Regions from separate parts of the Homo sapiens genome. Here region 2 is linked to region 1. The links come from fine-mapping of genetic effects on gene expression. Tissue or cell type: lymphoblastoid cells. Region 1 holds a variant in brackets; the other region holds the start of a gene. All regions are shown on one strand. Distances are between the middles of the regions.

Evidence for each region. PIP is the estimated chance that this variant, and not a neighbour inherited with it, causes the effect. A credible set is the group of variants that fine-mapping cannot tell apart.
Region 2: it holds the start of MROCKI, and the variant in region 1 is the best candidate, but not a certain one, in a credible set for the expression of MROCKI in lymphoblastoid cells (GEUVADIS, PIP 0.55).

Annotation. Positions count from the first base shown.
Region 1 is chr6:113,762,552-113,766,797 of GRCh38, reverse strand. No RefSeq gene overlaps it. Among named protein-coding and RNA genes, the nearest start is that of MARCKS, 93 kb to the left of the region's middle. The variant C/AC (reference allele first, on the strand shown) is at 2,080.
Region 2 is chr6:113,871,648-113,875,893 of GRCh38, reverse strand. It overlaps MROCKI (MARCKS cis regulating lncRNA promoter of cytokines and inflammation), which reads left to right and starts at 2,547. Exons shown (of 3, transcript NR_038863.2): 1 at 2,547-2,900. It overlaps LOC124901382 (a long non-coding RNA gene), which reads right to left and starts at 2,489. Exons shown (of 3, transcript XR_007059716.1): 1 at 2,071-2,489.

The DNA of each region.
Region 1 (4,246 bases):
ATAAGTTTATTCCAATACTTGCAATTCCAGTTCATAATTTCAGGTTTATTTCCAGACTTTTCTTTCACTTTCTTTGACAGTGAGAAACCTGGCTCTCATTATTGACAATATAGTTATATTTCCTCAAAATGACTATATATAATTAATCTTTTTTCATACTTTGTCCTCTTTCTACCATCTGCAAGGGAAGGGAAAGGAAGGAAAAGGGAGGAAAGGGTGTAGCTGAACTTTTCAGTCTACAGGGCAAGAGTGGTCCTGAATATTGACTACGGTGCATCTCTGGAGGTCTTTCCTAATCATCTGTACCTCTCTAAATTTTCTCTAGCTTCAGATTTGGTAACTGAATGATTATAGAGTATTTTTTGGAACTAGATAGAAAGCAACATTCAACAATTGTCCTCTGTCTAGCTGCTATTTCTTTCTTGATTTTCCCCCTTTGTTCTCCTCTGTTTTGTCACTGCTGTTGCTTTCTTCTCCCTTGAATTGCTTTAATACTTGCCTAAATGCCTCCAATCTTGCCTGCCTCAAGATCTTCTTCCACCAAAGAAATCCCTCTAAAACATGAAGCTGAGTGCAACATTCTACTGCTCTAAAATTTCTCAATGGCTTCCTATGGCTCCACACTCCTTAATGTGGTTTATAAAGACTTCTATAACTTGATGGATGCTTGTTTTCTCCCCCAATCCATCTCAAATCACTCTCTGCACTGAACTGCCTATGTCAGCAACCACAGATACCGGTATGTCTACAAAGAAGCTATGTTTCTTGGGAAACAAGAGCTAAAGGAATGGTTTTCAATGTCAGATTTTCTGGATTTGAATCCTTTTTCATTGCCTGCTTAGGCCTGTGTTTTTGTGACTTGGTTACTACTATTGCTATGAAGCAAACCACTAAAACAGTGGTATAAAACAAGAAATATTTAAGGCTACAAATTCAGTGGGTCCAGATTCAGAGAAAGGCCAGTGGGGACAGCTCATCTATGCTGGTCTGGAGGATCTGTTTTATGATGGTTTCTCACTTGCCTGGTTCCTGGACCGCAATGGCTGAAAGATGGACTCAGCAGGGATTGTCAACTGGAGTGCCTTCAGGTCACCACTCCAGCATGGTGATTTCCAGGTAGGTGGGCATTTTATTGGGATCTCAGAGATCCAACACATATGTTCCAGAAAACCAGGTAGAAGCTGTTTGGTCTCTTGTAACCTGGCCTCAGAAGTCTCATAGCATCACTTCCATGTACTCTTGGTCAAAACAAGATTCAGAGAAAAGGACACAGATGCTTTTAGTGTTTTAATACTGGTATATCTTGGAAATTACTTACTATTTCCTTATCTGCAAGATGGAGGTCCTAGAAGTATGGGCTAAATGAGTTATTACATGTAGAATGGCCAGGACACAGTAACTGGTCCATAAATATTAGATATTTTTGTTTTTCAATGACACTACATGCTATTTTTAAGCCCAGAATTCAGTTAGCCTTCTTCATTGCCTAATGAAGACATATTAATAGATAGGTCGGTATCTCCTCCGGGATGCTATCTCTGACTCTGCAAGGTGTGTTAGGTGTTCCCCAGGGTCCCTGACCTCCACAGTGCTTTATAAATGCCAGTGTGTGTGTGTTGGTTACCCCTACTAGTCTGAGGTCTCTGGGGCAAAAACAGCTAATATACTATCTCTAGCATATATCACAATGTCACATAGTATACACTTAGTAAATCCTTGACAAATGGATGTCTTTATTTTTAGAAGATGAGACCTCACAACCTAAAGACAGAATAATCCTGTGTTCTGGCCAGGCGCGGTGGCTCACGCCTGTAGTCCCAGCACTTTGGGAGGCTGAAGTGGGCTGATCACTTGAGGTCAGGAGTTCAAGACCAGCTGGCCAACATGGTGAAACCCCATCTCTACTAAAAATACAAAAATTAGCCAGGCGTGGTGGTGGGTGCCTGTAATCCCAGCTAATCAGGAGACTGAGGCAAGAGAATTGCTCGAACCCAGGAGGCTGAGGCTGCAGTGAGCCAAGATCGTGCCACTGCACTCCAGCCTGGGGTGACAGAGCAAGACTCCATCTCAAAAAAAAAA[C/AC]AAGAAAGGCCAGGCGCGGTGGCTCATGCCTGTAATCCCAGCACTTTGGGAGGCCGAGGCGGGTGGATCACGAGGTCAGGAGTTCAAGACCAGCTTGGCCAAGATGGTGAAACCCTATCTCTACTAAAAATACAAAAAATTAGCTGGGCACGGTGGCAGGCGCCTGTAGTCCCAGCTACTCAGGAGGCTGAGGAAGGAGAATCATTTGAACCCGGAGGGTGGAGGTTGCAGTGAGCCGAGATCGTGCAACTGCACTCCAGCCTGGGTGACAGAGTGAAACTCCGTCTCAAAAAAAAAAAAAAAAAAAAAAAAAGAAAAGAGAAAAAAGAATAATCCTGTGTTCTGATTTGACTGGAAATTCCCCCATTTCCATCTGTTGTTGCTGCACAATTATTAGTGGTGCCACATTTTATTCTCAAAACGTTCCCAGTTTGGATAGTAAATTATACAGTACTGACTCAAAGAGGCTTCTGGAGTCTCTCCGATGTTGGTGAAGGAAAGACTTCCCTTGAACCTCTGACCCTCTGACCCTCTCTCCTCTCGTAGCAAGAGTGCTCATGAGTAATTCTAGCCTGGGAAACTCACCTTTCACAAGGTGGTGGGGTGGCTGTTAAAGGAAATTTCACTTACAGTGTCCCAGTGAGCCAGGATGTAGTGCTGAATCACCAGCAGCATTTCTCAAAAGGGAGTTAAGAAATGACTTCCCATTGACTCAAGGGGTGTGGGGCTTTCACTTGTCCATGGTGACTAGAAAGGAATTGCCTGGTTAACTTTGACTTATGTTGAAAGGTGGCTTCAGTTTGCTCTCAAACCCATTCCCCACTGATCTCCAAGGGTCTTCAGAGTGTTGCCCTGTTGTAGAGGTTTTTCAGAAAGTATTGGCTAGTGAGTGCTCTCAGGTTGTCCTCTGGAGGAGTTTGAACTGGGGCAAATTTGGGTTAGGACTAAATTGTAAATGAGCTCATCTCTAATGTTTGCACTTAGTTGGAAAAACAGGTTTAAAAGATATGGGAAATCAGTCTGTCAGGATCACCCAAGAAAGGAGTTTCAAGGAATGTGTCATCACCTCAGATAGTCCTGCCAATCTCCATTTTTGGAAGTAAACAGAGACTTTCTTTGCCTTTTAGCTGGTCTTTCTAAATTTTCAAGGCCCAGTATAAGTCCTGCTTTGTCCAAGAAACTTTTCCGGGGCTGCCTCAGACTGTCTCATCTGTTCTTGACAGCTGCTTCTCCCCAGTATCTGAGCTCACCTTCATCTTTTAAAATTACTCATCTGGGAATTCCTCTTCAATGATAATGATCTTTAATACAGCACTTATATGTGCCTGAGTGCTTTGCAACAATCATTTTTTCTAATCTTATCACCAAGTAAGTAATATTCCCACATTTTAGAGGTAAAGAAACACAGATAACAGTGCCTTGTGTTTATGTTCCTAGCATTATATCACCTCTTCTCACTTGGCCTGTAAGTCTCTCAAGAACTGAAAACAGGTTTCTTACTCCTTGATATTTCACTTTCCCCCCAAAACAGTTAAGAACTCAGAGGAGCAAGTTGTCCATGACAATGGCTGATTTTACTTCTTATCTACTCCATGAAGACAGGAGTTTAAACATAAATACATTTAAGTGCCACATAGGCCATCTTTTAAGCCCTGGAAACTACCTTGAGTCAGGAAAATAAATTCAGGGTGAAGAGAAGAGATGGTAAATATGTGGGACTTGCCATTTTGAGAGTCCATCAGTGTTGCTTTTGAAACACAGGAAGCTTTGCTCAGCATTTGTTTAAAAGAGGAAGAAATGTTTAAAATATTAAGCACATTGTGACAATTTGAATATTCCCTGGTTGATTTCCTGCATTACATCTTTGAAAATTTCCTGATTTTCATATGTATTCCAGTGCTGAGTGGTATTTCCTGTGTCAGCCTAAAAAACGGGATTTTTCTCTTAACGGGAAACATCAATATCAGCATCAGCTGCAGGGACTGAGATGTTGAAATGGTGACTACATTCAAACCCATATGAATTTTGATCTTAAAACAAGCCACACACACTGAATAAGTGTATAAATGTGTATGAAATAAGTATGAGTACCTTATCATACATTTAAACCCGATTTTTGTTGACAAGAATATTTCCTTTTAAAGTTCTTTAACTCTTGCCTTGAAGA
Region 2 (4,246 bases), 110 kb before region 1:
CTTTTTTAGGTCATTTTCTGTTATATTTAATTATGTTTAAAATCTTGCCTATTGCCTGTGTGCTTCTCAAGGGCAGGAAACCTGTCTTTTTCATGGCTGTGTCCTGAAAACCTAGCACAATGGATCATATATAAAACACTCTCAGTAAGTATTGATACCATATGAAATAAACTTTAGGCCTGCACTGGGTTCCAAAGATAAAGGCACTCTTTCTGACATCATCTGGGAGGAATTTGTTGACCACGAACAAAGAAGCTACATTTTGAACAAGCATGTTTGAAACTCTAGAACTTAAGGCTCAGCAATACAGAAATATTTTTGAGTCTTTTTTCTCCAGCTATATTTACTGTCTACCATGTGTGACTTCTCTCTCTTCTGATGCTAATTAATTAATACCCCACACGCCAAACCCTTATTTACCACCCTGCACACACAGATCTCCATTAGAAGTCTGGAATGTTGATGGTTGGGTAGGTATTTTAACCTAGCTTAACCTCTATCACAATAATTAATTTTAATTGCTTTTCACCTTGGTTACGTGATCCCCCAACTCCATGGAAATGATATAACCTTGTAAAAAATAAAAAATAATAATAAAAATCTTGACATGAGCTTCTTAAAGAAACAGACGTGAGATTTGACTTTAGCATTCAGTAACCAAAGGTATAAGATACCCAAAACAAAGGAAATGTGGTGCTTTCACTGCTTGTTTTTAGTGCTGCCACTTCTCTCCCAAGGAATGTCGCTGCCTTAAACTCTGTTCTGTGGCAGATACTTCCTGCCCCTATACATCACCTTCAGATGTACTATATGATCAAGATCTTTACCATCTGGCCACTCCTCTAGCTCTAGTGTTCCAAATGGCTTACATTTTTAATGGTTCTTTGTGATCTCCCTGATATAGAAATACAGGTATGCAAGGACATGTGCACTCATAAAGAGTCTATCTTCCTTCTTTGCATTCCTGTGTGCTTTAGCCAGAAGAGATGTTTTAGGATGGTGGTACAGTGAGAAATTTATGAAACAAGGGCCACTGGGCCACCAAGATGACTATTTATGGTTAAGTGGAATCCAAAAGGATGATATGGGGTATCTCTTTCTTTACAAGTAGTAGCCACTGCCATTGAACAAATATTTAAATAATACAAACAATTGTTAATAATTATTTAGCTCCTCTTAAATGAGTCACGTGTCCCCTTTCCATGTATAAAAACCGTATTTATACTTTGTGTTTCCCTTGTGCTACTCAAAAGATCACAATAAAAACATTCTCTTGAAAAATTTACTTAGTTTATTTCACTGACTTAAAAAAAATTTTTTTTTACTGCATTTTATGCTAGATTCACACATTTCACATGGTGGTTGAACATATAAGGAAAGATATATTTTTACCACGGCTTGATAACATTTCTTCAAGATGCTATCCTCACAACAGATTATATTTATTCAGAAAATTTGAAGTGATCTATTTGAAATTACCTCTAGTAGTTTGTTAAAATGTAACAGATCCATTTATAGACTTTTAAAAGATGGAATTTTTATAAAGGTACAGTTGTTTGTTTGTTTTTTAGACAAAGTCTTGTTCTGTCACCAGGCTGGAGTGCAATGGCACGATCTTGGCTCACTGTAATCTCCACCTCCTGGGTTCAAGCGATTCTCCTGCTTCAGCCTTCCGAGTAGCTGGGATTACAGGCGTGTGCCACCACACCCAGCTAATTTTTGTAAAGATGGGATTTCACCATGTTGGCCAGGATGGTCTTGATCTCCTGACCCATTGATCCACCCACCTCAGCCTCTCAAAGTGCTGGGATTACAGGCGTGAGCCAACACGCCTGGCCAAAGGTACAGTTATATGTGAGTTATACAATAGATTCCCAATAGGGTAAGACCCTGGGGGAGTAACATCACTAGAATCCGATGTGTCCATCTCAAATAGTTTTTTACTGAATTGATTATGTCTCAATAATATTTTGGAATCTTGATAAAAACTTACTTGGCTAAAGTATACCATTAATATAAATAAACAATATAAATATAATATAAATAATATAAATAAACAATGGTATTTACCATATTACCTTTACCATGTGTATTTGTATCCAAAACACACTCATTTATACCATATCAAGGCATAGCAACTCCAGTTTGTTTGAAGAACATTACTTGATAAACAGCAACGAAGACAGAAGAGTTGATGGAAATTCTGATATTACTACCACCTCCTTTCCCTACTATTGCCCTTGTAAAACACAGAAATAGTTTGTTCATGTGACCAAATTGAAGTCTTCTTTCACTCAGGAATATAGAATATCCAACATGCGTTGTGGTGCTTTAAAGATGGTCAAAATTCTTTGACATTATCTCATCAAGAGGTGGTGTCAATGTCCTTCTTTCCCAGAATCTGGGTGGGCTCAGAGACTGCTTTGACCAATAAAGCATAGTGGAAGTAAAACTGTGCCAGTGTCTCGGGCTCAGGCTGAAAGAGACTGGCAGCTTTCACTTCCTGTCTTTTGAAAGTCTCTTGAACTTCGGACCTGGGGGAAGCCAGCTGCCGAGTGAGAAGTCTGACTATCCGGAGATGGCGGTGAGTATAGAGAATTTCTGCTAGGTCTCCTGTGTTTCAGCCATCCCAGCCCAGGCACCACGACACATTATCAAAGGACTATCTTGGACCTTCTCATCCCAGCAAACATCCAATGGAGAAGAATGAAGACTCCAGGCATATGATCCCACTCTAGCCATCCCAGGAGCCCCCAGCTATCCAAACAACTACAGCTGTGGCCAAAAACATCGTGTATCAGGGACAAACTCTCTGCTTATGGCTGCTCTAATCCTTGACCTACAGAATCATGAAATTTGTGGATACGGTCATGATCTTGATTTTGGCGATGGTTTCACAGGTGTGTACCTATGTATGCTTATCAAAGTGTGCACTTTAAAATGTGCAGTTTATTATATGTCAATTATATATAAAGCTGTTCAAAAATTTAAAAATAATTGTTGTTTTATACGACTGAGTTTTCAGGTGGTTTGTAATATGACAATAGATAACCTGAACATGCACTTCCTATGTTTTATGTTTATTTCTTCCTGATATTTATTAAAATAAAAATATTATTAAAATACAAACTTGGCATATAAAACTTTACTAGGTATATTAAGTACTTTTTTTACAAAATTCAATTTGTTTTTATTAAATGTCTATAATCTAGACTATAGATTATACAGTCTAGATTATAATCTAATCTATTATATAGATATAATAGATTAAATGAGTTGGCTTTAAAAAATCACATTATGGATTATTATTGATAATATTAGTATTGTTTTTTACTGAAGTGAATTTCTTACCAGAACAGATTCTAGGCATTTGCACATTCACTCTTAAGTTTCTAGATCCAAGTCCATTCCCTAGAACATATTAGATATTCAATAGGTGTTTGGTAAAAATATAAATGAAATATGGAATAAAATCTAAACCTTTTCTTTTGTTTTAATATCTTTATCTAGTATATCTTAGTTTAAATGTATTGCAAATGATTTCAGGACACCAGTGTCTACCTGAGCTAGATTGCTCTCAAGTTTTAGTTTAATATTCAACCAAAAACGCACATTATAAAACAATGTACCTTCTTTTACAAAAAGTTTGCATGTGATGGAGCCAGGTCCCTTTGAGTCCAGCACCTAAGTGTCTAATCACTAATTCATCCTCGTGACCCCAACAGGAAATAGCATGACCTCAAGTCTAACTGACAGGAATGAGACCTACAGAAGAACAAAAAAGGAAGAAAAGTTAATAATCTTTTTTCTGTCCATTTTCTTCTTTATTGTAGGTCAGATGTACGTGATGGTTACCATTATAACTACATACTATGAAAGATTAATCAGTGGAAAAAAACAAGTTAAAGACACACAAAAAACTTCAGAGAATCAACTTCTGGTCAAAAAAGCCCTCCTTTAGCCAACTCTAAACCTCATTCAACCAATATTCTCTATAGTCTTAGAAAGCATTCAGAAGACATAATATTTTTTAAGGACTTCAAGCAGCAAATGGCAGAAGTGACAAGAATTGAAAATAGAGGAAAATTTTGTTTTGTTTAAAGAATTCTAATTTTAATAATGGGAAGTATGCATCCATATTTATGCCAGATTCATATATATGAAATATATATATATATATATATATATATATTTCATGTAAATGTACTTTTGCTAATGAAATAGGAATTCAGGACAATAAGAAGGT